3 separate regions of the Homo sapiens genome follow, and all the other regions are linked to region 1. The links come from fine-mapping of genetic effects on gene expression. A gene starts in region 1. Each other region holds a variant in brackets. All regions are shown on one strand. Distances are between the middles of the regions.

Region 1 (8,189 bases):
CCCAAAACGCTGGGATTCCAGGTGTAAGCCACCACACCTGACCAACAGCTGAATTATTTATAACAGCCAAAAAGTAGAAACAACCCAAATGTTGATCAATAAATGGTAAGAAGTGATATATCCAAATAATGAAATATTTAGCAATAAGAAGAAATTGAATACTGATATATGCTACCACATAGAACTTTGAAAACAATATGCTATGTGAAAGAAGCCAGTCACAAAAAGACAACATAGTATATGCTTCCATGTACAGGAAATATTCAGAATAGGCTAGTTTATAGAGACAGAAAGTAGATTAACTGTTGTCTAAGGCTGGAAGGGGCTTGGGAGTGAATAGTTTCTTTTTGGGGTGATGAAAATGTTCTAAAATAGACTGCAGTGATGGTTTCACAACTCTGACTATACTAAAAACCATTGAATTGTCCATTTTAAATAGTATATATTGTATGATTTGTGACATATCTTATTAAAGTTTATTAAAGCTGTTATAAAAAAGAGCATTTACAGCCACACACAAAAATATTATGAAGAAAACAGGTAATTTTTTTTTTAGAATCTAGGATTTTTCAAAGTTATTTTCTAAGAATGATAAAAATCTAAAAAGTTACAATATCATTAGACTAAAAATTTAAACCATTTATGTGACCAAAAAAGGGTAAAAATATAAATGTCTTTAGTTGTCTGTATTCTCCAGCAGATAGCATGCTCCAAAAGCACTGACCTTGTTGTACGTGAAAACCTAATGTTAGGTATACATATTTGTTGACTAAATATTAGATAGTCCTTGACACATGGTACTATAAAAGATTAATGCTTTTCAGAGTAATTTTCTGTGAAAAGGCAATAAAAATCTGTGTTTGGTCATTTTTTTTAAAGTGGCAAAGAAATGAACTTACTTACGCATACTAAAAACTATAGCACTGGGGCCAGGCATGGTGGCTCATGCCTATAATCCCAGCACTTTGGGAGGCTGAGGTAGGAGGATCACTTGAGGCCAGGAGTTTGAGACCAGCCTGGCCAACATGGCAAAACCCCGTCTCTACTAAAAATACAAAATTAGGCATGGTGGTGGGCACCTGTGATCCCAGGTACTACGGAAGCTCAGGCACGAGAATCACTTGAACCCGGGAGGCAGAGGTTGCAGTGAGCTGAGATTACATCACTGCCCTCCAGCCTGGTCAACAGAGCAAGACTGTGTCAAAAAAACCCCAAAAAACAAAAAAACTATATTGGCAACACTTTTTAAGCCTTAGATAACTATTCACCTATCCTCAATTTTGGAAAAAAAAAAGTATATTAAATACATAAAGATATTCTAGAACTCAGTTCAAGAGTTCAAATACACTATAACGAATATTTAAAATATTTAGTTTTCAATGCATTGTAGTTTAGTGCATAGAAGTTATTTACTTCTGAAAACTGATGACTGACATATGACAAACTATTTCTACTGCTTGTATAGCTACTGATTTTCTTGAGAATATTTGGAACTGTGTAGTCTGAATTTCTCCAAAGGATTGGAAAAAAAAGTCACAACCTTTACCCCTTTTCTGAAAACACATCTGATATCTCACTTTAGAGATTGGAATATTCAGTCTCCGTGGTTGAGAAGAGAAGTCACAAAGTCCACTGAACTCATAGCATCACCATATCAAAGTCACACTGATGGCACATTGGTGTCTACCTCTTTCATGCCAGCAGGCTACGAAAATGGCAATGAATTGCCATCCAAAGAAAACAGAAATGGTAGTGGAATTTGGTTAGCACTGGGCCCAAGGCTGATTGCATCTAAATTAGGCTCTAAGGCAGATAGCATCTGACTACTTTAACGTTCCAAACACCATCTTATCCATACATTAAGTGCAGCAAAAAATGCATGGGTGACATGAAATTTAAACAAAGTTCTAATTTCTTAATATATGGAAGCCAAATTTAACAAAATTCTACTTTCATGAAATTTCATAAGAATATCCTTGAATTTGGAATATTTAGACTTAATGATTCTATCACCAAAACTTAAGTAAACTAAAGATTTAAAAAAATTAAGCCAGTTATGACAGAATATGAGATCCTTTAGGGAACTTTTCTGTTTGAATTAACGACAACAACAAAAATTTAAGTAAAACTTTAAAAAGACCATCCAACTTCATCTGTCACGATGGTTCACAGAATACCCATAACACGATAAAGCCCTTAGAGTTAATTTAATTTAATTTTTTTTTGAGACGGAGTCTGGCTCTTTCACCTAGGCTGGAGTGCAGTGGTGCGATCTCAGCTCACTGCAACCTCCACCTCCGGGTTCAAGTGATTCTCCTACCTAAGCCTCCTGAGTAGCTGGGATTACAGGAGTGGGCCACAACGCCCAGCTAATTTTTGTATTTTTAGTAGAGATGGGGTTTCACAATGTTGGCCAGGCTGGTCTTGAACTCCTGACCTCAGGTGATCCATCCGCCTCAGCCTCCCAGAGTGCTGGGATTACAGGCTTGAGCCACCACGCCCAGCCCTTAATTTTAGACAACGCAGAAAAACTGGCTCCAGATACACTTGGGTGACTTGGTCAACATATGAATGTTAACCATGATGTGACAGATCAGACTTCAATTTCTTTAGACTGAACTAGAATGGCTCCGAAGACGAAAGTCAGGTCAGGACCAGGGAGAAAAACTGGGCAAATACGATTTTTTTTTTTCCATTTCCAACAGAGGTTTGAAGATTAGAACCAGGATTTGGGAAGCCTCAGTTCAGGAGTCCACCGAGGTGTGTGTGTGTTGACAGGTGGTGGTGATGCCGAGGGCGTGTTGACAAGTTTTCCCCGCCCTTGACCTTTAGCCTAGATATTAATTCTACCAACTGGGGCAACCCCAGAGGGAGGAAGCCAGGGTCCCCCAACAGGCTGACAGCGCGTGACCTTTGCCCTAGATAGCCTGAGAAAGCTGATGAGAGAAGGGGCGAGAGGTGCCTACAGCCCCCAGGACCGGCCTTGTCCCTTTTGCCCTAACTCCTCCACTTATCCCCACCGCCCGTTTCCTCTCACCCAGGCAGGACAGCTTGGCTAGCGGCACCAGCATGTTCAAAGTCACCAGGACTCTCGGTCGGACACAACAGGAGGACTGTCCGCTGCTCGCGGCGGGCGCTGGACCTCTAGGCCGCGGGGGGCGCCATCACCTGCCGGAAAGCAAGAACTCTGCTGCAGTTCGCCTCCCCGCTCTGCCGACCGCTCTTGCTTCACGGCGTTCCCACCTCCTTCTCGCTCTGCGCCGGCGCCATGGATGACGCAACGGCCAGCCGAGGCTTCCGGGTCATGTACCAAACCAGGGAAAGATAAGGGACTCCAAGTCCCAGCCGGGGAGCGGTGAAACAGCCACAGCGCGGCCAGAGGGGTCCGCGAATCCCACAGCACGACGCACGCGCAGTGAAAGGCAGTAGAAGGCGGGGCGACGCACACGGCTTCCTGGGAGGTGTAGTTTTCTCTACGAGTGCCCTTCGAGATCGATTGGAGGCTCGCGCAGGAGCCGTGAGTTGCCTAAGGTGAATTGACTCATATGATTGGCTGTCCCGAAAAATGAAACGTCTTTGTGGTCCGGGGCTGAGACCCACGAGGAGACTGGGCGGGATTTCTGGCGTTAGGAGGCGGGGCCTTTCGGCTTTGGGCGCGAGTGGTTAAAAGACAGTTGGTGTCGGTTCGGCTTCTCGGGTCGGATTCCGCGGTCCCAACCCTTCCCCATGGCCGACCCTGAGGAGTTGCAGGTTTCTTCGCCGCCCCCGCCGCCTCCCTCTTCTCCCTCCTCTTCAGACGCCTCTGCAGCATCTTCCCCGGGCGGCCCAGTGAGTTTGGGCTGGCCAGTTCCGAGCAGGAGCAGCGGCCCAACGGTGGACCAGCTGGAGGAAGTGGAGCTGCAGATCGGAGACGTGAGTGTGGTGTCGGGACCGCGTCCCCCCTCGGCGCCTCTGGGAAGACCGGCGGCGGCGGGGCTCGCGAGGCTAGGGAATCGGTCCCCCAACCCCCATGACCCGGGACGACCGGCCCTTCTGCGCCCCAGAGCGTGCGGGCGGGAAGCGGGGGGGATGCCAGCAGCTAAAGTGCCACCCCTCTCTGAGGGTTCCCCCTTTAGATTTAGTGGTGAGGAGTCTTAAGGGGTTTTCCTTCCACCCGCCCCACCCCTCACTGGTTTCTTTTTGTCTCGCCTTCTGGTTTCAATCATCCGCAGTAACCCGAAGCCACGCAGCTCTGCGCTGCCTGTTGCTGGCTCTCTGCCTCCTCCTTTCCCATCGGAGAATAGTTTTCATTGCATGGGTTTCGGAGAATAGTTTTCACTGCATGAGTTTGCTGGCTTTCTGTGGGTACTTGAGATCAGGCTGTGATTTCTTTCCATGGGACTTAGAGCCTGCTGTTCTAGTTGGCCACCTGCCCAGGGACAGCTGATAATGCCATTGTCTGCCCCAGGCCTGCTTAGCGCTGGACCCAGCTTGAAGGGTTTAGGTCACGTGGATTGGCTTCTTTGACGGTTTAGTTCAGGACTCCTCCCTTTGTATGATTGCTAGAATGCATACTTAGGATAGTTTCTGTTAAATCTCGAATCCCCAGAAACTAGCACCCCACCTCCCAACCGTAACTCACACACCACTGGAGGGGAGAAGACAGGGAAGGGGAGTTTTATGTTCTCTTGAGTGGGTCAAGTGGAATGAGGTATGTAGAGTGTAACCTGGGAGAGTTCTGTGGCCTGACCTTTCCTGCAGATTGGAAACTAGGGGATGAACTAGATTATCTCATTGCTCCGCAAGTATTTTTTTTTAAGGATGACTAGAGTGCTTAACCAGCTTTTATTTTTGCAGAACAAACTGATTGCAAGTAAATATGTAGAATGAAGTGCTAATGTGTTATTGAGGAACACTGTTTTATTTTATATCATTGGTGAAGAAAACGTTTGGCTGAAAAGTGAATTTTCCACCAGGAGCTGAGTGTTTTCTGCATTTGTGTGTGATTTTTTAATGTTATTTGTCAGAGCTCAGAGTTTCTGTTCTTTGATCTATACATTTTCATTGTTTAAAGTGTTCACAGGTCAATGCCCATGTTACCCAAATAGCAGTAAGAATTATTTATGATGAAATCTCTCAGATATATCTGGCGCTTAGTGTCAAGGGGTCCAAGTCATCTTGTTGAGCTGAGACTCTAGTGTATTTTCATAGAAAACAGCAATCCTGGGCCAAGCACGGTGGCTCACGCCTGTAATCCCAGCACTTTGGGAGGCTGAGGCAGGCGGATCACCTGAGGTCAGGAGTTCGAGACCAGCGTGACCAACATGGAGAAACCCTGTTTCTACTAAAAATACAAAATTAGCTGTGCGTGGTGGCGCATGACTGTAATCCCAGCTACTAAGGAGGCTGAGGCAGGAGAATCACTTGAACCCGGGAGGCGGAGGTTGCAGTGAACCAAGATCGCGCCATTGCACTCCAGCCTGGGAAACGAGCGAAACTCCGTCTCAAAAAAAAAAAAAAAAAAAGAAAACAACTATACTGATTTGTCATATCTCAGACATAATGGATATTTTTCTAGCAGACCTGTTTCTTCAAAGTCTACTCAATATTAAAGAATTTCTTAGGTTCCGTGAAAGAGCCAGTGCTGTAGTTTGAAAACTGATTACTTTGAAAGAAAATAACATGGGCATTGGATTCAAAGCCTTAAGCTATTTTCAGCCTGCTTATAAAATGAGATGAGAATTTTAAAAATAAAATTATGTTTGACTTTTTTTTTTTAGGCAGCCTTTTCATTAACCAAACTTCTTGAAGCCACATCTGCAGTATCAGCTCAAGTGGAAGAACTTGCCTTCAAATGTACAGAAAATGCACGTTTCCTTAAAACGTGGCGGGACCTCTTGAAAGAAGGCTATGATTCTTTGAAACCTGATGACTGATTTGGCATACTTCGTTGTTTAATAATGACTGCAATAATTCATACTTCTTATGTCATATTTTGTACATGTACCACACATATAGGATGACCTCTGTCCAGCAGTTCTGTATATACTCAGAATGAAATTTTTCTTGGTTTTCTTGGTTTTTGTGAAAGCAGAATACCGATGCTATTTTTGTTGCGGACCAGTACTTGTTTGTCCTTAAATACTTTATGCCTCTGAACTTTCATAGAATCCTTTATGAAAGTTAACTTCATCAATAGACGGTTAATATTAATAGAGCCACAGTGCTACCAGTAGCAAACTAGGTAGACCATTATTTGTTTTGCAACAAGATGCTAAGCATGGCAGACTTTGAAGTTGCGTTTCATCTTAAGGACCAAGGGAGGTAACTTTAAGGTTGCCAGTGGTGGATCCAGCTCCGTTAGGCTAAGTTGTCTACAGCTAATGATTGTGTCTTTATTCTATATCCCCAGCACCTAAAACAGGGTCACACAACATTCACTAAATGTTTGTTGAATAAAAGAGTTAACAAACATAATTGAAAGCTTTTTTTCTTCCTATATTTAGCATGAAGACTGTCATTGTTTCTCTAGGAAATGTATGAATCTGAACTTTTTTGACTTGAAGAAAAACATTCTTTTTTTACAGAGATTTGGACTTTGATGATAGGTTTTAAAAATATATGATAAATATTTTTTGTACTTGTTTGATTTTTTTTTTAAAGACTTTACTTCAGAAAGGGAAAGACTGTTTAGAAAGAATGCATATTTTTTCCCTATTTATTTCTGTGGTTACTGCTTTTGCAGTTTAACAGTGTTTGTATTTGATATTTGTATATGTTTGATTGCTATCTTTAAAGTGCCTTATCAGATTTATGGCTCTGTGCTATTACTTTTTGAGCTTTGCAAGTTGTGTACATAATAATTCTAAAGAAGTTACTTTGTTTGCAATGCATCAAATTTAAATGATGTGATTTTTTTTGTATTATTTGATCTTAGTGACAGTGTTCTATTTTGCATCCTGTATCTTATGTTGCTTTTGGTGTTTTGTGTTGTGTGTCAACGATTAAGCCAACTAATTCTCTACCATATATAACTTCTGGACATTTTTGATACAACATCTTAATTCTTTGTAGATATGGAGATAGGTACAGAACTATATTCTAATGCCCCACAATGGGGCTATGAGAGGGGACAGATGGATGGGCAAAGAATAGTTTTGTTTAACATATTAGGTCATAGTTCTTGATTAGTTTTTTTAGTTAAAGATAAACACATAGGGTGTGATTTCTATACCAAAGATATGCTTATTTCAGTATTAGAAAAATATTCTTCTTACATCTCCTGAAAATTGCAATTTTTAAAATGTGTAAAAATAAATTATTATTAAAAGCACATTTTATTTCCATTTGTTTGGATTCATTACCTTAAAACTTTATTGACATATTTCAAAGATATAGGAAAGGTAAATGATTTCAAGAAAATCCGTGTATTTCTACCATGCAGATGTAATAAATGTTAGCATTTGGCTATATTTTCTTCAGACACACATATGCATGTAATTGCAAATGTTAGATACATTTGAAGTTTGCTTTGTTACCTGTTTGATCCTGTCCCGTTCCTCCCTCCCCAGAGTCCCCAGAGGTAACCACTAGAGGGGGCATAATATAGCATGTGTTTTTATATTTTTAATACAAATATATTTTTTAAAAGCGCTACAAAATATTGTTTTATATATGTGGTAGCCAGCTTCCAGATGGCCCCAGTGATCCCTGGCCTCCTGGTGTTCATGCCCCAGTATAGCCTTCTCCTGCATTTTACAGTGCTGACTTTTGTAACTACCAGGATATTGAGCAAATGCAGTGTGTGATTTCTGAGGCCATATCTTTTACTCTTTTTTTTTTTTTTAAGAGACAAGATCTCACTCTATTGCTCAGGCTGGAGTGTGGTGGCAGGATCATAGCTCACTGTAACCTTAAACTTGGACTCAAACAATCCTCCCATCTCGCCTCCTCCTATAAAGCACTGGGATTACAGGCATTTTTGCTCATTTTTCTATGTTGTTTTTTTTACTTGTCAGTTTTTAGATATTACATATTTTGAATACTAATGATCTGTTATGTATGTTCCAATTATCTTTTTTAGTCTGGTTTGTCTTCATATTTTGGTTATGAAATCTTGAATTTTTAAAAACGTAATTTTACCAATCTTTCATAATGATTTGCTTTTTCTGGTTTTTGTATAGGAAATGTCATAAAAATAGTCCTATTCA
Region 2 (8,189 bases), 35 kb after region 1:
AATTACTAGCTCATTAGGCAAACATCAATATCTGTGAACAGTTATTAGAGCTGAGGAGAACTTCTTACAAGACCAAGTGGATTCCCCTCACATCATGTTTCCTGAGATTCAAAAAATCTCCTATGAGATTCTACCAGACTGTGGAAAACTAAAATCATCTCACCCAATATCAAAGGTTTAAGAGTTTTAATTATTGTTTAGACATGTCTCAGTCCACTTGGCTGCTGTAACAAAAATACCATAGACTGAGTGACTTAGACGACAAATGTTCATTTCTCACAGTTCTGGAGGCTGGGAAGACCAAGATCAAGGTGCCAGCAGATTCAGTGTCTGGTAGGGGACCACATGTTTCATAGATGGCCATCTTCTCTGTCTGTCTTCACAAGGTGGAGGGGCAAGGGTCGTCTCCAGAGTCTCTTTTCTTTTCTTTTTTTTTCTTTTTGAGATGGAGTCTCACTCTGTCGCCCAGGCTGGAGTGCAGTGGCACCATCTTGGCTCACTGCAACCTCCACCTCCAGGGTTCAAGCGATTCTCCTGCCTCAGCCTCCTGAGTAGCTGGAATCACCACCACGACTGGCTAATTTTTGTATTTTTAGTAGAGACGAGGTTTCACCATGTTGGCCAGGCTGGTCTTGAACTCTTGACCTCAGGTGATCCACCCACCTCGGCCGCCCAAAGTGCTGGGATTACAGGCATGAGCCACTGGCCTGGACCAGAGTCTGTTTTCTAAGGGCACTAATCCCACTCATGAGGGCTCTGTCCTCATGACCTAGTCACCTCCCAAAGGCCCTACCTCCTTGTACCATTGCATTGGGGTTAGTATTTCAATATATACATTTTGGAGGAACACAAACTTTCAGTTTATAGCTGGCAAATTAGTAGAAAATATTAATAGATTGGATGCATTATCATAATACACATGGAAACAAATATTAACATCACAGTGAAAAACAATAAAATATCTACTTACATGTGAGAGAGATTCATAAGAGGTCTAAACATCCTTTGTTGGATATTTGAAATTTCAATCCCTTCTAGGCTGCTAAAAATATCAAATTAATAATCAATCAAAGGAACATGTATTATACATGGTTTAATAAATTGAGTTTCTGTGAAGGACAATTTAATAAAATGCTTTTAGTTAACACTTACTCTGAACAAAATAATTATACTCAACCCACCCACTTCCCCAAATCCTCCTCCTTCTGATTGTGTTATTTATACACGTATTATCTTCCTTATTTGATTTTTTTCAGATCCTCACAGATCATGGCACAATGCTTTGTGCATTTTAACTAATCAATAAATATGTGTGGAATAAATGCACAAGCATTATCTTTTGTACAATATTACAATAGCAGAGGATGCTTTACATCCTTGAAAATTTCCTAGTAATTTTTAATTAATAAATTTTTTTCTAATAAAATGTCATTTTACTGAGGGAACACTCAAATTAAATGAACTGAAGCTTACCTTTTTTTTTTTTTTTTGAGACAGGGTCTTCCTCTGTTGCCCAGGCTGGTGTGGTGGTATGAACAGGGCTTACTGCAGCCTCAACCTCCCAACTCAAGCAATGTTCCCACCTCAGCCTCCCAAGTAGCTAGGACCACAGGTGCATGCCACCACACTCAACTAATTTGCTTATTTTTATTTTTTTGTAGAGGCAGCATCTCCCTATGTTGCCCAGGTTGTTCTTCAACTCCTGATCTCAAGCAATCCTCCTGCTTCGGACTCCCAAAGTGCTGAGTTTACAGGTGTGAACCACTGCACTCAGCCCTGAAGCTTATCTTTTAAGGCAATTCTTTGGCTCTAACAGAATTTTTGTCTTTTTGTGTGTGTGTGGTACAAGTAAGGATTTATATAATCTAGCATATTCCATCTTGGGGTAAAAACACTTATAATAAATTATAAAATACCCAGTGTTAAGAGAGTGAATATGCACAGATGTCTTTGAAGGGTCAAAGCAAACAAATCAACATAAGCTCCTAATGACTTATAGAAAAATATAAAATAATTCATCATTATTTTTTAATTTACAAGTATATAAGATAAAACTAATAGTTGTCTGTTTATAGTTCAGCAAGCACCCATATGTTTTTGTGGAGCTAAACTAATGTCTTGGAAATAAAGCTTATGATTTGAAGTAAATATATAAAAATATACATTGTTAGTATTTAAAAAACAATTTTATCATAAAACTATCCCCATATGTGAATACTTACAGAGACTTGAGTTTGACAAGATAATCAAATTGGTTTGCTTGAATTTTCTGGATTGGATTATAGGAAAGATTCCTGTTTTTTAAAAAAAGCAGCAATAGGTCATTTCTAAAAACTACATGAGTAAAGCGAGTGAATCTGTTTATTTTGGGTTACTTTAACATATTTATGAACGAAAGTATACAATAACTCGTAATGGATGAAAGACTTAAACTGTAAAATTATAAAACGACTAGAAGAAAACATAGGTGGAAAGCCCCAGGACATTAACCTGGGTGATGATTTTTTTGGATATTGCCCCAAAAATATAGGCAACAAAAGTGAAATAGATGAATGGGATTACATAAAACTAAAAAGCCTCTGCACAGCTAAGGAAACAATCAACAGAGTGAGGAGACAACCTGTGTAATGGGGGACAATATTTGCAAATCATATATCTGGTAAGTGGTTAATACCCAAAATGTGTAAGGAACTCAAACAACTCAGCAAGAAAACAAATAAGCTGGTTAAAAATTAGGGAAAGGGCTTGAATAGACATTTTTCAAAAGAAGACATATAAATGACTAACAGGTATATGAAAAAGTGCTCAACATCACTAATCATCAGAGAAATGCAAACTGAAACCACAATATTACCTCACACCTTTTAGAATAATTTTTATCAAAAAGATGAAAGATAAGGGTTGAGGATGATTTGAAGAAAAGGTTGCCCCTTGCATACTGGTGATGGGAATATAAATTAGTACAACCATTATGGAAAATAGTATGGGGCTTCCTCAAAAATCAAAAATTGAACTACTACATGATCCAGAAATTCCTCTACTGGATATATATCCAAAGGAAATAAAATCAGTATATTAAAGAGATTTCTGTACTCCCATATTCATTGCAGCATTATTCATAATAGCCAAGGTATGGATTCAACCCAAGTGTCCATCAAAGGATGACTTGATAAAAAAATATGTATACATACACAATAGAATACTATTCAGCCTTAAAAAACACAGAAAATCCTGTCATTTGCAACAACATGAATGAATCTGGAGGACATTATGCTACATGAAGTAAGTCAGGCATAGAAAGACAATTACCACATGATCTCATTTATATGTGGAATCTAAAAAAGTTGAACTCATGGAAGTAGAGAGTAGAAGGTGGTCACTAGAGGCAGGTGGGAAAGGATTGGAATATATTGGTCAAAAGGTACAAAAATTTCACTTAGAAAAGAGGAATAAGTTCAAGACATCTATTGTGTAACATGCTGACTATAGCAAATAACAATGTATTGTATTCTTGAAAATTGCTAAGAGAGTAGACGTTAAGTGTTCTCACCACAAAAAATAAGTATGTGAGATGATGCATATGTTAATTAGCCCAATTTAGGCATTCCACAATGTATACATATTTCAAAACATCATGTTGTACTGATAAATATATACAATTTTTGTTTGTCAGTGAAATAAAGAGATAGCAATAGCATTGGCCTCACAGGGTTGATTGTACATGTAAGTGAATTAATTAAGATAAAACACTTAGAACAGTGCCCAGCTTGTGGTAGATACTCTGTGATTACGGTAGTGATAGACTGAGACCTAATAAAACATAGGCATGAAGGCGGAGCTGTCAAGAAAGGGCTGCCACCAGAGAAGTGGTAGGGGACTGAGAAAGAGCCGCATCTACTTCACATTTTGCCTAAGATCAGATATGGTTTAAA[C/T]AAAATGAAATAAAATAATCTCATTTAGTCAAAATTTGAATTAATGGAATAATATATCATATATTTTACAATAAATCTTAAGTCATGAAACATGAAATGAAAAGTAGACTTTAAAGGGAATTTATTGTTATATTTTAATTTTTTAGAGATGGGGACTTGCTATGTTGCTCAGGCTGTACTCAAACTCCTGGGCTCAAGGGATCCTCCTGCCCCAGCTTCTCAACTCACTGGGACTACAAGCACCTGCCTTCTTAAAGAGAACTGAAAGGTAAATTTAAATGGAGAAAATTTCAGAATCTTTGAAAAACAACACCTTGAAACAAGAATCATTGATTAAAGGAAACTTCTCAGGAAAATTTCTCTTTTTAAAATATTTAGACTGGGTGTGGTGGCTCATGCCTGTAATCGCAGCATTTTGGGAGGCCGAGGTGAGAGAATGGCATGAGCCTTGAAGTCCAATATGAGCAGCCTGGGCAACATAATGAGGCCCCCATCTCTACAAAAACAAAATTAAAAAAAAAGAGGAAATAAACAAAAATATTTACTGAAGATTAGACCATAAGTTACATGGGGGATGGAAGGAACTGCTGGGGGAGCCACAGTTACAGAAAGAAGGAAAGAGAGAAAGAATGACAATGACCAATGGGTTGTATAAAAAAATGAAGTGGACTCAGCAAACTAAAAATAAAAGGAAACTACCTCACATAATAAAGGATGTATATGAAAACCCACACTCAATGGTAAAAGACCAAAAGCTTTCCCTTAAGAGTGGGAACAAGACAAGGATTCCTGCTTTTACCACTTTCATTCAACATAATGTTGGAAGTCCTAATTAGAACAATTCGGCAAGAAAAAAAAGTGAAAGGCAGGCATCCAAATTGTAAAAGAAGAAAAAAATGATCTCTGTTTACAGGTGATGTAATCTTATATGTAGAATATCCTAAAGATTTAACTAAAAAGAAATCCATTTGAACTAAAACATTCATCAACATTCCTGGATATAAAATTAACACACAAAAATCAGCTGTGTTTCTATATGCAATGAATAATCACAAAAGAAAATGAGGAAAAGAATTCCATTTACAATAGCATCAAAAGAATAATATACTTAAATAAACTTAACCAAGGAGGTGAAAGATAAATACCCTGGCAACTGCGAAACATTGCTGAAAGAAAATAAGGAAGACACCAATGAAAGGAAAGACATGCTATGTTCACAGATCAGAAGACTTAATATTAAGATGTCAGTATTGCTCAAAGTGAGCTACAGATTCAAAGCAACCTGCCAAAATCCCATTGCCTTTTTTTTTTGCAGAAATATGAAAATCCATCCTAAAATTCATATGGAAAATGCAGGGAGCCCACATAGCCAAACAATCTTGAAAAAAGCAGAACAAAATTGGAGATTTTACACCACTTAATTTCAAAACATACTACAAAGCTACAGCAATCAGTGTGGTACTGGCTGAAATACAGACATGTAGACTAATGGAATAGAATAGAGAGCTCAGGAATAAACTCACAGATATATGGTCAAATGATTTTCAACAAGGGTGCCAAGGACATTCAATGGGGAAAGAGTAGTCTTTTCAATAAATTGTGTTGAGAAAACTGGACATCCACATGCAAAAGAATGAAGTTGGATCCTTACCTTACACCATGTACATAAGTTAACTCAAAATGGATTTAAGACCTAAATATTAAAGCTAAAAACTATAAGACTCTTAGAAGAAATCATACAGGAAAAGCTTCATGACATGACACCAATGACATTTGGTGTTATTTTGGATATGACACCAAAAGCATAAGTAACAAAAAAAGAAATTTAAAAATTAGACTATACATAAATTAAAAACTTTTGTGCATCAAAGGACACCATAATAGAGTGAAAAGGCAGCCCATACAATGGGAGAAAATATTTGAAAATCATGTATCTGAAAAGAAGTTAACATCCAGAATATATAAGAACTCCAACAATCTAACAACTACAGAAAACCTGAACAATCCAATTGAAAAATGAGTGAATGACTTGAACAGATTTTTCTGCAAGAAGGTATCCAAATGGCCAATAAGCACATGAAAAGTTGCTCAACATCACTAATCACTGGGAATCACAAAACAAAATCACAGTGAGATACCATTTCACATCCATTAGCATGCCTATTATCAAAAAAACAGAAAATACCAAGTGTTGGGAAGGATGTGGAGAAATGGAAACCCTAGTATACTACTAGCGGAAATGTAAAATGGTTAAACTCCTATGGAAAACAGAATGAAACATGCATTAAAAATAAAATGACAGAAATGTATGAAACAGCAATTCTACTTTTGAGAGTAGGTACCTAAAAATTGAAAGCAGAGTCAACAGATATTTGTACGCCCATGTTCATAGCAACATTATCCACAATAGGCAAAAGATGGAAGCAACTAAAATGTCCATTGATGGGTGAATAAACACTGCAATACATATACACAATGAAATATTGTTCAGCCTTAAGAAGGAAGGAAATTCATTTCTGCTACAACAGAAATGAAACTTGAAGACAGTATGCTAAGTAGAATAGGCCTGTCACAAAAAGATAAATATTCCATGATTTTACTTCTATGAGGTATCTGGAGTAGTCAAATTCACACAGACACAAAGTAGAATGGTGGTAGCCAGGGGATGGGGAAACGGTGAGTGGGAAGTTAGTGTTTAGTGGCTAGAGTTTCAGTTTTGCAACATGAAAAACTTCTGGAGGTAGATGGTGGTGGTGGTTGGGCAGCAATGTGAATGTAGCTAATGCTACTCAACTACACACTTAAAAATGGCTAATTTTATGTTATGCATATTTTACAATTTAAAAAATAATAAAATAAAGAAACGAGGTGGCAAAATTAACATCAGTCTTACAATTGTGACAGCTCCTTCAGGTCCTTGAATATAAGCGGTGGAAGATTTTCAATCTTATTACTTCCTAAATCCCTGGAGAAATAATTGCAAATATGTGATATTATTTTCTTAAGACTTTACTCATTGTTCTGAAATTCATTAGGAAACCACTATACAACTTTTCAACAATGCCATTGGTGAGTTATATTAATCACCAGAAGTCTAAAAATTTAAAAAAGGAGCAAAGTTGGAAAATATAAAAATATTTTATTCCATTTCATCATCCCCTGGAAGACAAATACTTGATGGTATTTGATCTTTTTTTTTTGAGACCGAGTATCACTCTGTCACCCAGGCTGGAGTGTAGTGGTGCGATTTTGGCACACCACAACCTCTGTCTCCCGGGTTCAAGTGATTCTCCTGCCTCAGCCTCCCCAGTAGGTGAGATTACAGGTGTGTGCTACCACGCCTGGCTAATTTTTGTATTTTTAGTAGAGACGGGGTTTCACTATGTTGGCCAGGTTGGTCTCGAACTCCTGACCTTGTGATCCAATCGCCTCAGCCTCCCAAAGTCCTGGGATTACAGGCGTGAGCCACTGCACCTGGCCTGATCTGGTTTTAATCAATCGCATTTTCTCATTCTTTTGATTTCTGTGTTGTGCCCCTTCTTCCTTTGTTCTCTTTTTTTGTGTGTTAGAATAGATGCATGGTTTGCGATCTTAATTTTTTTCTTCCGCTTAGGATTGTTGTGATTATTATGGAAGTGTATTATTTCAAGTTCGAGTTTCTTCCACAGCTGATATACACAGGCTCTCATATTATCCTGGGGTAGGATACTTTGCATGCCATCTCATGTATGTGTAGAGGGTCTGCTTAACATGGTATGACCTCGTACCTTAGTCCTAAAAAGGTGTTTGACAGCAGCACCTCTCGTGGTAGCTTTGACAGTGGCAGCTCTCATGTGAAAGGCCTCAGATTCTTTTATACAAGAAAAAGTTTCAATAGACTTGAGCTCTGTAAGGTGATCAAGAGATACTAAGGGAAAGTCTAACCTTTTCTTCTATTCATCTCCAAATCATATTTGTTGCCACTGGGATAGGTAGGAGAATGAATAGATGTATTTGTTATATATGCTGGTTTGCTTATAAGGCAAACGTTAGATTTTTTGACCTCGAAGGGTAGGACAATTTTTAGACTGAGTTTTTAAAACTAAAAATAAGTGGCTAATATAATGTGATAAATATTATAAACGTCTTTGCTGCAAACTGAACCTGGAGACTATTGCTGTTAGTTACATATTTATCGGTGAATTGTCAACAGATTGTTCTGATTAGACAACTGAAGGAATTACTCAAAAATTCCATCTCTTTCATAAAGAGTTGGAA
Region 3 (8,189 bases), 120 kb after region 1:
CCAACATCTCTCCATTTTTCCCCAGACCCTGGTACTCCCCACTCGACTCTCTACTTCTATGAGTTTGGCTACTTCACATCCTACATATAAAAAGGATCTTGCAGTAGTTGTCTCTCTGTGCCTGGCTTATTTCACATAGCATAATGCTGTCTAGGTTCATCCATGTTGTCACAAATGCCAGAGTTTCTTTCCTTTAAAAGGCTGAATAATATCCCATTATGTATATATACCACATTTTCATTATCCATCATCTGTTGATGGACACTTAGGTCCACAACCCAGTTTTAAAACTTAATAGTCCGTTACATTGACTCCTTTCATGTTGGTCAGTAGTTGCTTTTTTTTTTCTTCATGTTTTAGAGCATTTAATATGTTTTAGGTACCAGGCTAAGCACTTTGCATGCCTTGTTTCACTTTATCTTCATAAAACTCCATTAAATAAGTTCTAATATTATCATGATTTTATAGTTTAGGAAGCTAAAGCATAGAGGAATAAATTGCTTGGATATCATGGAACCAGTAAGTGGTGGAAATGGGATTCAGATGCAGATCCGTCTGATTCCAGAACACGTGTTCTTAACCAATGTGCCTTTACTAATTCCCCATATAGACTAGCTTATGAGCCCTGAAAGGTTATTGATGTTTCTACCTCCCTTTTTTGGACTCATGGCAGTGTTCCTGAATATCTTCTTTTTCACCTATTTAGATCTTACCCTTTAAGATCAAGGTCAGGGGTGGAGCCAAGATGGCTGAATAGGAACAGCTCCGGTCTACAGCTCCCAGCCTGAGCAATGCAGAAGATGGGTGATTTCTGCATTTCCATCTGAGGTACCGGGTTCATCTCACTAGGGAGTGCCAGACAGTGGGTGCAGGTCACTGGGTGCAGCGCACCAGGTGTGAGCCGAAGCAGGGCGAGGCATTGCCTCACACGGGAAGTGCAAGGAGTCAGGGAGTTCCCTTTCCTAGTCAAAGAAAGCGGTGACAGACAGCACCTGGAAAATTGGATCACTTCTACCCTAATACTGTGCTTTTCCAACGGGCTTAAAAAATGGCACACCAGGAGATTATATCCCACACATGGCTCGGAGGGTCCTATGCCCACGGAGTCTCGCTGATTGCTAGCACAGCAGTCTGAGATCAAACTGCAAGGCAGCAGAGAGGCTGGGGGAGGGCCTCCTGCCATTGCCCAGGCTTGATTAGGTAAACAAAGCAGCTGGGAAGCTTGAACTGGGTGGAGCCCACCACAGCTCAAGGAGGCCTGCCTGCCTCTGTAGGCTCCACCTCTGGGGGCAGGGCACAGACAAACAAAAAGACAGCAGTAACCTCTGCAGGCTTAAATATCCCTGTCTGACAGCTTTGAAGAGAGTAGTGGTTCTCCCAGCATGCAGCTGGAGATCTGAGAATGGGCAGACTGCCTCCTCAAGTGGGTCCCTGACCCCCAAGCAGCCTAACTGGGAGGCACCCCCCCAGTAGGGGCAGACTGACACCTCACACGGCCGGGTACTCCTCTGAGACAAAACTTCCAGAGGAACAATCAGGCAGCAGCATTTGCAGTTCACCAAGATCCGCTGTTCTACAGCCACTGCTGCTGATACCCAGGCAAACAGGGTCTGGAGTGGACCTCTAGCAAACTCCAACAGACCTGCAGCTGAGGGTCCTGTCTGTTAGAAGGAAAACTAACAAACAGAAAGGACATCCACACCAAAAACCCTCTGTACATCACCATCATCAAAGACCAAAAGTAGATAAAACCACAAAGATGGGGAAAAAACAGAGCAGAAAAACTGGAAACTCTAAAAAGCAGAGCGCCTCTCCTCCTCCAAAGGAACGCAGCTCCTCACTAGCAACGGAACAAAGCCGGACGGAAAATGAGTTTGACGAGCTGAGAGAAGAAGGCTTCAGACGATCAGACTACTCCAAACTACAGGAGGAAATTCAAATCAATGGCAAAGAAGTTAAAAACTTTGAAAAAAAATTAGATGAATGGATAACTAGAATAACCAACACAGAGAAGTCCTTAAAGGAGCTGATTGAGCTGAAAGCCAAGGCTCGAGAACTACGTGAAGAATGCAGAAGCCTCAGGAGCCGATGCGATCAACTGGAAGAAAGGGTATCAGTGATGGAAGATGAAATGAATGAAATGAAGCGAGAAGGGAAGTTTAGAGAAAAAAGAATAAAAAGAAACGAACAAAGCCTCCAAGAAATATGGGACTATGTGAAAAGACCAAATCTACGTCTGATTGGTGTACCTGAAAGTGATGGGGAGAATGGAACCAAGTTGGAAAACACTCTGCAGGATATTATCCAGGAGAACTTCCCCAATCTAGCAAGGCAGGCCAACATTCAGATTCAGGAAATACAGAGAACGCCACAAAGATACTCCTCGAGAAGAGCAACTCCAAGACTCATAATTTTCAGATTCACCAAAGTTGAAATGAAGGAAAAAATGTTAAGGGCAGCCAGAGAGAAAGGTCGGGTTACCCACAAAGGGAAGCTCATGAGACTAACAGCTGATCTCTCGGCAGAAACTCTACAAGCCAGAAGAGAGTGGGGGCCAATCTTCAACATTCTTAGAGAAAAGAATTTTCAACCCAGAATTTCATATCCAGCTAAACTAAGCTTCAAAAGTGAAGGATAAATAAAATCCTTTACAGACAAGCAAATGTTGAGAGATTTTGTCACCACCAGGCCTGCCCTAAAAGAGCTCCTGAAGGAAGCACTAAACAAGGAAAGGAACAACCAGTACCAGCCACTGCAAAACCATGCCAAAATGTAAAGACCATCAAGGCTAGGAAGAAACTGCATCAACTAACGAGCAAAATAACCAGCTAACATCATAATGACAGGACCAAACACACACATAACAATATTAACTTTAAATGTAAATGGGCTAAATGCTCCAATTAAAAGACACAGACTGGCAAATTGGATAAAGAGTCCAGACCCATCAGTGTGCTGTATTCAGGAAACCCATCTCACATGCAGAGACACACATAGGCTCACAATAAAGGGATGGAGGAAGATCTACCAAGCAAATGGAAACCAAAAAAAGGCAGGGGTTGCAATCCTAGTCTCTGATAAAACAGACTTTAAACCAACAAAGATCAAAAGAGACAAAGAAGGCCATTACATAATGGTAAAGGGATCAATTCAACAATAAGAGCTAACTATCCTAAATATATGTGCACCCAATACAGGAGCACCCAGATTCATAAAGCAAGTCCTTAGTGACCTACAAAGAGACTTAGGCTCCCACATAATAATAATGGGAGACTTTAACACCCCACTGTCAACATTAGACAGATCAACGAGACAGAAAGTTAACAAGGATACCCAGGAATTGAACTCAGCTCTGCACCCAGCAGACCTAATAGATATCTACAGAACTTTCCACCCCAAATCAACAGAATATACATTTTTTTCAGCACCACACCACAGCTATTCCAAAATTGACCACATAGTTGGAAGTAAAGCACTCCTCAGCAATTGTAAAAGAACAGAAATTATAACAAACTGTCTCTCAGACCACAGTG[C/T]GATCAAACTAGAACTCAGGACTAAGAAACTCACTCAAAACTGCTCAACTACATGGAAACTGAACAACTTGCTCCTGAATGACTATTGGGTACATAATGAAATGAAGGCAGAAATAAAGATGTTCTTTGAAACCAACGAGAACAAAGACACAACATACCAGAATCTCTGGGATGCATTCAAAGCAGTGTGTAGAGGGAAATTTATAGCACTAAATGCCCACCAGAGAAAGCAGGAAAGATCCAAAATTGACACCCTAACGTCACAATTAAAATAACTAGAAAAGCAAGAGAAAACACATTCAAAAGCTAGCAGGAAGCAAGAAATAACTAAAGTCAGAGCAGAACTGAAGGAAATAGAGACACAAAAAACCCTTCAAAAATTTAATGAATCCAGGAGCTCGTTTTTTGAAAGGATCAACAAAATTGATAGACAGCTAGCAAGAGTAATAAAGAAGAAAAGACAGAAGAATCAAATAGATGCAATAAAAAATGATAAAGGGCATATCACCACCGATCCCACAGAAATACAAACTACCATCAGAGAATACTACAAACACCTCTACACAAATAAACTAGAAAATCTAGAAGAAATGGATAAATTCCTCAAAACATACACCCCCCCAAGACTAAACCAGGAAGAAGTTGAATCTCTAAATAGACCAATAACAGACTTTGAAATTGTGGCAATAATCAATAGCTTACCAACCAAAAAGAGTCCAGGACCAGATGGATTCACAGCCGAATTCTACCAGAGGTACAAGGAGGAACTGGTACCATTCCTTCTGAAACTATTCCAATCAATAGAAAAAGAGGGAATCCTCCCTAACTCATTTTATGAGGCCAGCATCATCCTGATACCAAAGCCGGGCAGAGACACAACCAAAAAAGAGAATTTTAGACCAACATCCTTGATGAACATTGATGCAAAAATCCTCAATAAAATACTGGCAAACCGAATCCAGCAGTACATCAAAAAGCTTATCCACCATGATCAAGTGGGCTTCATCCCTGGGATGCAAGGCTGGTTCAACATATGGAAATCAATAAACGTAATCCAGCATATAAACAGAACCAAAGACAAAAACCATGATTATCTCAATAGATGCAGAAAAGGCCTTTGACAAAATTCAACAACCCTTCATGCTAAAAACTCTCAATAAATTAGGTATCGATGGGATGTATCTCAAAATAATAAGAGCTATCTATGACAAACCCACAGCCAATATCATACTGAATAGACAAAAACTGGAAGCATTCCCTTTGAAAACTGGCACAAGACAGGGATGCCCTCTCTCACCATTCCTATTCAACATAGTGTTGGAAGTTCTGGCCAGGGCAATTAGGCAGGAGAAGGAAATAAAGGGCATTCAATTAGGAAAAGAGGAAGTCAAATTGTCCCTGTTTGCAGATGACATGATTATATACCTAGAAAACCCCATTGTCTCAGCCCAAAATCTCTTTAAGCTGATAAGCAACTTCAGAAAAGTCTCGGGATACAAAATCAATGTATGAAAATCCCAAGCATTCTTATACACCAATAACAGACAAACAGAGAGCCAAATCATGAATGAACTCCCATTCACAATTGCTTCAAAGAGAATAAAATACCTAGGAATCCAACTTACAAGGGATGTGAAGGACCTCTTCAAGGAGAACTACAAACCACTGCTCAATGAAATAAAAGAGGATACAAACAAATGGAAGAACATTCCATGCTCATGGATAGGAAGAATCAATATCGTGAAAATGGCCATACTGCCCAAGGTAATTTATAGATTCAATCCCATCCCCATCAAGCTACCAATGACTTTCTTCACAGAATTGGAAAAAACTACTTTAAAGTTCATATGGAACGAAAAAAGAGCCCACATTGCCAAGTCAATCCTAAGCCAAAAGAACAAAGCTGGAGGCATCACGCTACCTGACTTCAAACTATACTACAAGGCTACAGTAACCAAAACAGCATGGCACTGGTACCAAAACAGAGATATAGATCAATGGAACAGAACAGAGCCCTCAGAAATAATGCCGCATATCTACAGCCATCTGATCTTTGACAAACCTGACAAAAACAAGCAATGGGGAAAGGATTCCCTATTTAACAAATGGTGCTGGGAAAACTGGCTAGCCATATGTAGAAAGCTGAAACTGGATCCCTTCCTTACACCCTATACAAAAATTAATTCAAGATGAATTAAAGACTTACATGTTAGACCTAAAACCATAAAAGCCCTAGAAGAAAACCTAGGCAATACCATTCAGGACATAGGCATGGGCAAGGACTTCATGTCTAAAACACCAAAAACAATGGCAACAAAAGACAAAATTGACAAACAGGATATAATTAAACTAAAGAGCTTCTGCACAGCAAAAGAAACTACCATCAGAGTGAACAGACAACCTACAAAATGGGAGAAAATTTTAGCAACCTACCTATCTGACAAAGGGCTAATATCCAGAATCTACAATGAAGTCAAACAAATTTACAAGAAAAAAACAAACAACCCCATCAAAAAGTGGGCGAAGGATATGAACAGACACTTCTCAAAAGAAGACATTTATGCAGCCAAAAAAACACATGAAAAAATGCTCATCATCACTGGCCATCAGAGAAATGCAAATCAAAACCACAATGAGATACCATCTCACACCAGTTAGAATGGCAATCATTAAAAAGTCAGGAAACAACAGGTGCTGGAGAGGATGTGGAGAAATAGGAACACTTTTACACTGTTGGTGGGACTGTAAACTAGTTCAACCATTGTGGAAGTCAGTGTGGCGATTCCTCAGGGATCTAGAACTAGAAATACCATTTGACCCAGCCATCCCATTACTGGGTATATACCCAAAGGATTATAAATCATGCTGCTATGAAGACACATGCACATGTATGTTTATTGCGGCACTATTCACAATAGCAAGGACTTGGAATCAACCCAAATGTCCATCAATGATAGATTGGATTAAGAAAATGTGGCACATATACACCATGGAATACTATGCAGCCATAAAAAATGAAGAGTTCATGTCCTTTTTAGGGACATGGATGAAACTGGAAACCATCATTCTCAGCAAACTATTGCAAGGACAAAAAACCAAACACCTCATGTTCTCACTCATAGGTGGGAATTGAACAATAAGAACACTTGGACACAGGAAGGGGAACATCACACTCCAGGGACTGTTGGGGGGTAGGGGTAGGGGGAGGGATAGCATTAGGGTATATACCTAATGTAAATGACAAGTTAATGGGTGCAGCACACCAACATGGCACATGTATACATATGTAACAAACCTGCACATTGTGCACATGTACCCTAAAACTTAAAGTATAATAATAAAATAAAATTAAAAAAAAAAAGATGAAGGTCAATTATAGCTTCTAACTTACTTCCTCTATGACCATGTCCATTCTGGGTGATCTGTCCCTCTTTTGAAATCCTTCAGTGCAAGGATGAGATGCTGTCTCATCAGAGTGTTTTATGTTTTTGTTGCTCAGGGCATTCCAAGTTATTGTCCCACAAGGTCAGAAACAAACATGATGTATGTAAATAGACATATTTCTCAACAGACATATTGGAGATGGCAGCTTTATAAACTCAGACTTGCGGTTCATTTGGAACAATGATTTCCAATGAAGACAGTGGTTCTAGATTCTCCTTCATTTATATTTAGGAAGTAAATTAAAAAAATAAAAAGATGGTTCTCTTGTTAGTTCTTCTCTTTATAGACATTTCTAGAAATAAACAGCTGAATTGATCCGATCTCATGGGAATCTTTATATTTAAATGCCCAAGGTAGGGGCAAAATGGACGAAACATGGCAGAATGCAAAAATATGCACCAAGAATCCTCAGAGGCAGATACTACTATATCGATATTCAGTAGAGTTTTGCTTTATTCTTGAATGTGCCAATAAATTGATGGGCAAATTTGGCATGCCACTCTGTCTTACTGGATTTTAGGTTTTCTTCTGTGTCGAAGGAAGAGGCAGTACCAGCTGTTGTAATACTATTTGATTCTAGGTGGGAGATGGAGTGTTAATAAAAAAGTTTGAAAGTTCATTCTTCAGGAGGAAGTACTAGGGAGAGAAGATAAATGAAGAAAAACTGAGAAGAAATATGAAATGGAATAGAGAAGTGGGGAATAAATAAATATAAATACTGACTGGGAGGGCTCAGGGAAACTGTTGGTTGCTACCGATTCTCTATTTCCCATTTTCCTCTGTTAACACAATCCCCATCTTGTTTGTGGAGACACTGTGTTCTGCACCATTAGATGAGGTGACTGCCCCAAGCAATAAGGTGACTCCTGTTTCTGGCTTTCCCTGTTTCCTTGGCAGCGAGGTGGGACTGTGTGACCCAATTCTGACCATGAGACCTAAAAACTAGAAATCTTCTTGGGAAATTTTTGGAAAAGCCATTGCTTTCCTGGTAACTGGAGGAAAATCCAGCTTTACATCACTCTTCCCCTTCTTCCTGCTTTGAACATGAACTTGATGTCTGGAGTGACAGTAGCCATCTTTCCATCTATTAGGAGTCAATGTAACATAAAAACCAGTGCCTGAAGAATGGAGGAACAGGAAAGGTAGGAAGAACCTAGGAGCCTCAGGGCATGGCTGAATAGCTGCCGCAATGCCAGCAAGCACTTACTTCTG

Alleles and levels. Positions count from the first base shown, and alleles are read on the strand shown. Sizes are in standard deviations (SD) of each study's normalised expression.
For the expression in tibial artery of the gene that starts at base 3,232 in region 1, C is the high allele of the variant in region 2 and T is the other (moderate effect, 0.51 SD a copy in GTEx).
With allele C in place of T in region 3, the expression in spleen of the gene that starts at base 3,232 in region 1 is lower (moderate effect, 0.57 SD a copy in GTEx).

Evidence for each region.
Region 2: its variant is fine-mapped to the expression of ETFDH in tibial artery (GTEx, PIP 0.98).
Region 3: its variant is fine-mapped to the expression of ETFDH in spleen (GTEx, PIP above 0.99).

What each region holds. Positions count from the first base shown.
Region 1 is chr4:158,667,339-158,675,527 of GRCh38, reverse strand. It overlaps ETFDH (electron transfer flavoprotein dehydrogenase), which reads right to left and starts at 3,232. Exons shown (of 13, transcript NM_004453.4): 1 at 3,038-3,232. The coding sequence starts at 3,071. It overlaps C4orf46 (chromosome 4 open reading frame 46), which reads left to right and starts at 3,641. Exons shown (of 2, transcript NM_001008393.4): 1 at 3,641-3,912; 2 at 5,760-8,189. The coding sequence starts at 3,727. The coding sequence ends at 5,915. RefSeq lists enhancers at 2,884-3,385, 2,987-3,546, 3,389-4,025, 4,026-4,662 and a silencer at 3,967-4,036.
Region 2 is chr4:158,632,113-158,640,301 of GRCh38, reverse strand. RXFP1 (relaxin family peptide receptor 1) reads right to left here. Exons shown (of 18, transcript NM_021634.4): 12 at 6,826-6,897; 13 at 2,223-2,294; 14 at 971-1,042. Among named protein-coding and RNA genes, the nearest start is that of C4orf46, 36 kb to the left of the region's middle. The variant C/T (reference allele first, on the strand shown) is at 3,933.
Region 3 is chr4:158,543,142-158,551,330 of GRCh38, reverse strand. All of the region lies in intron 1 of RXFP1 (relaxin family peptide receptor 1), which reads right to left. All of the region lies in intron 3 of RXFP1-AS1 (RXFP1 antisense RNA 1), which reads left to right. Among named protein-coding and RNA genes, the nearest start is that of RXFP1-AS1, 17 kb to the left of the region's middle. The variant C/T (reference allele first, on the strand shown) is at 3,534.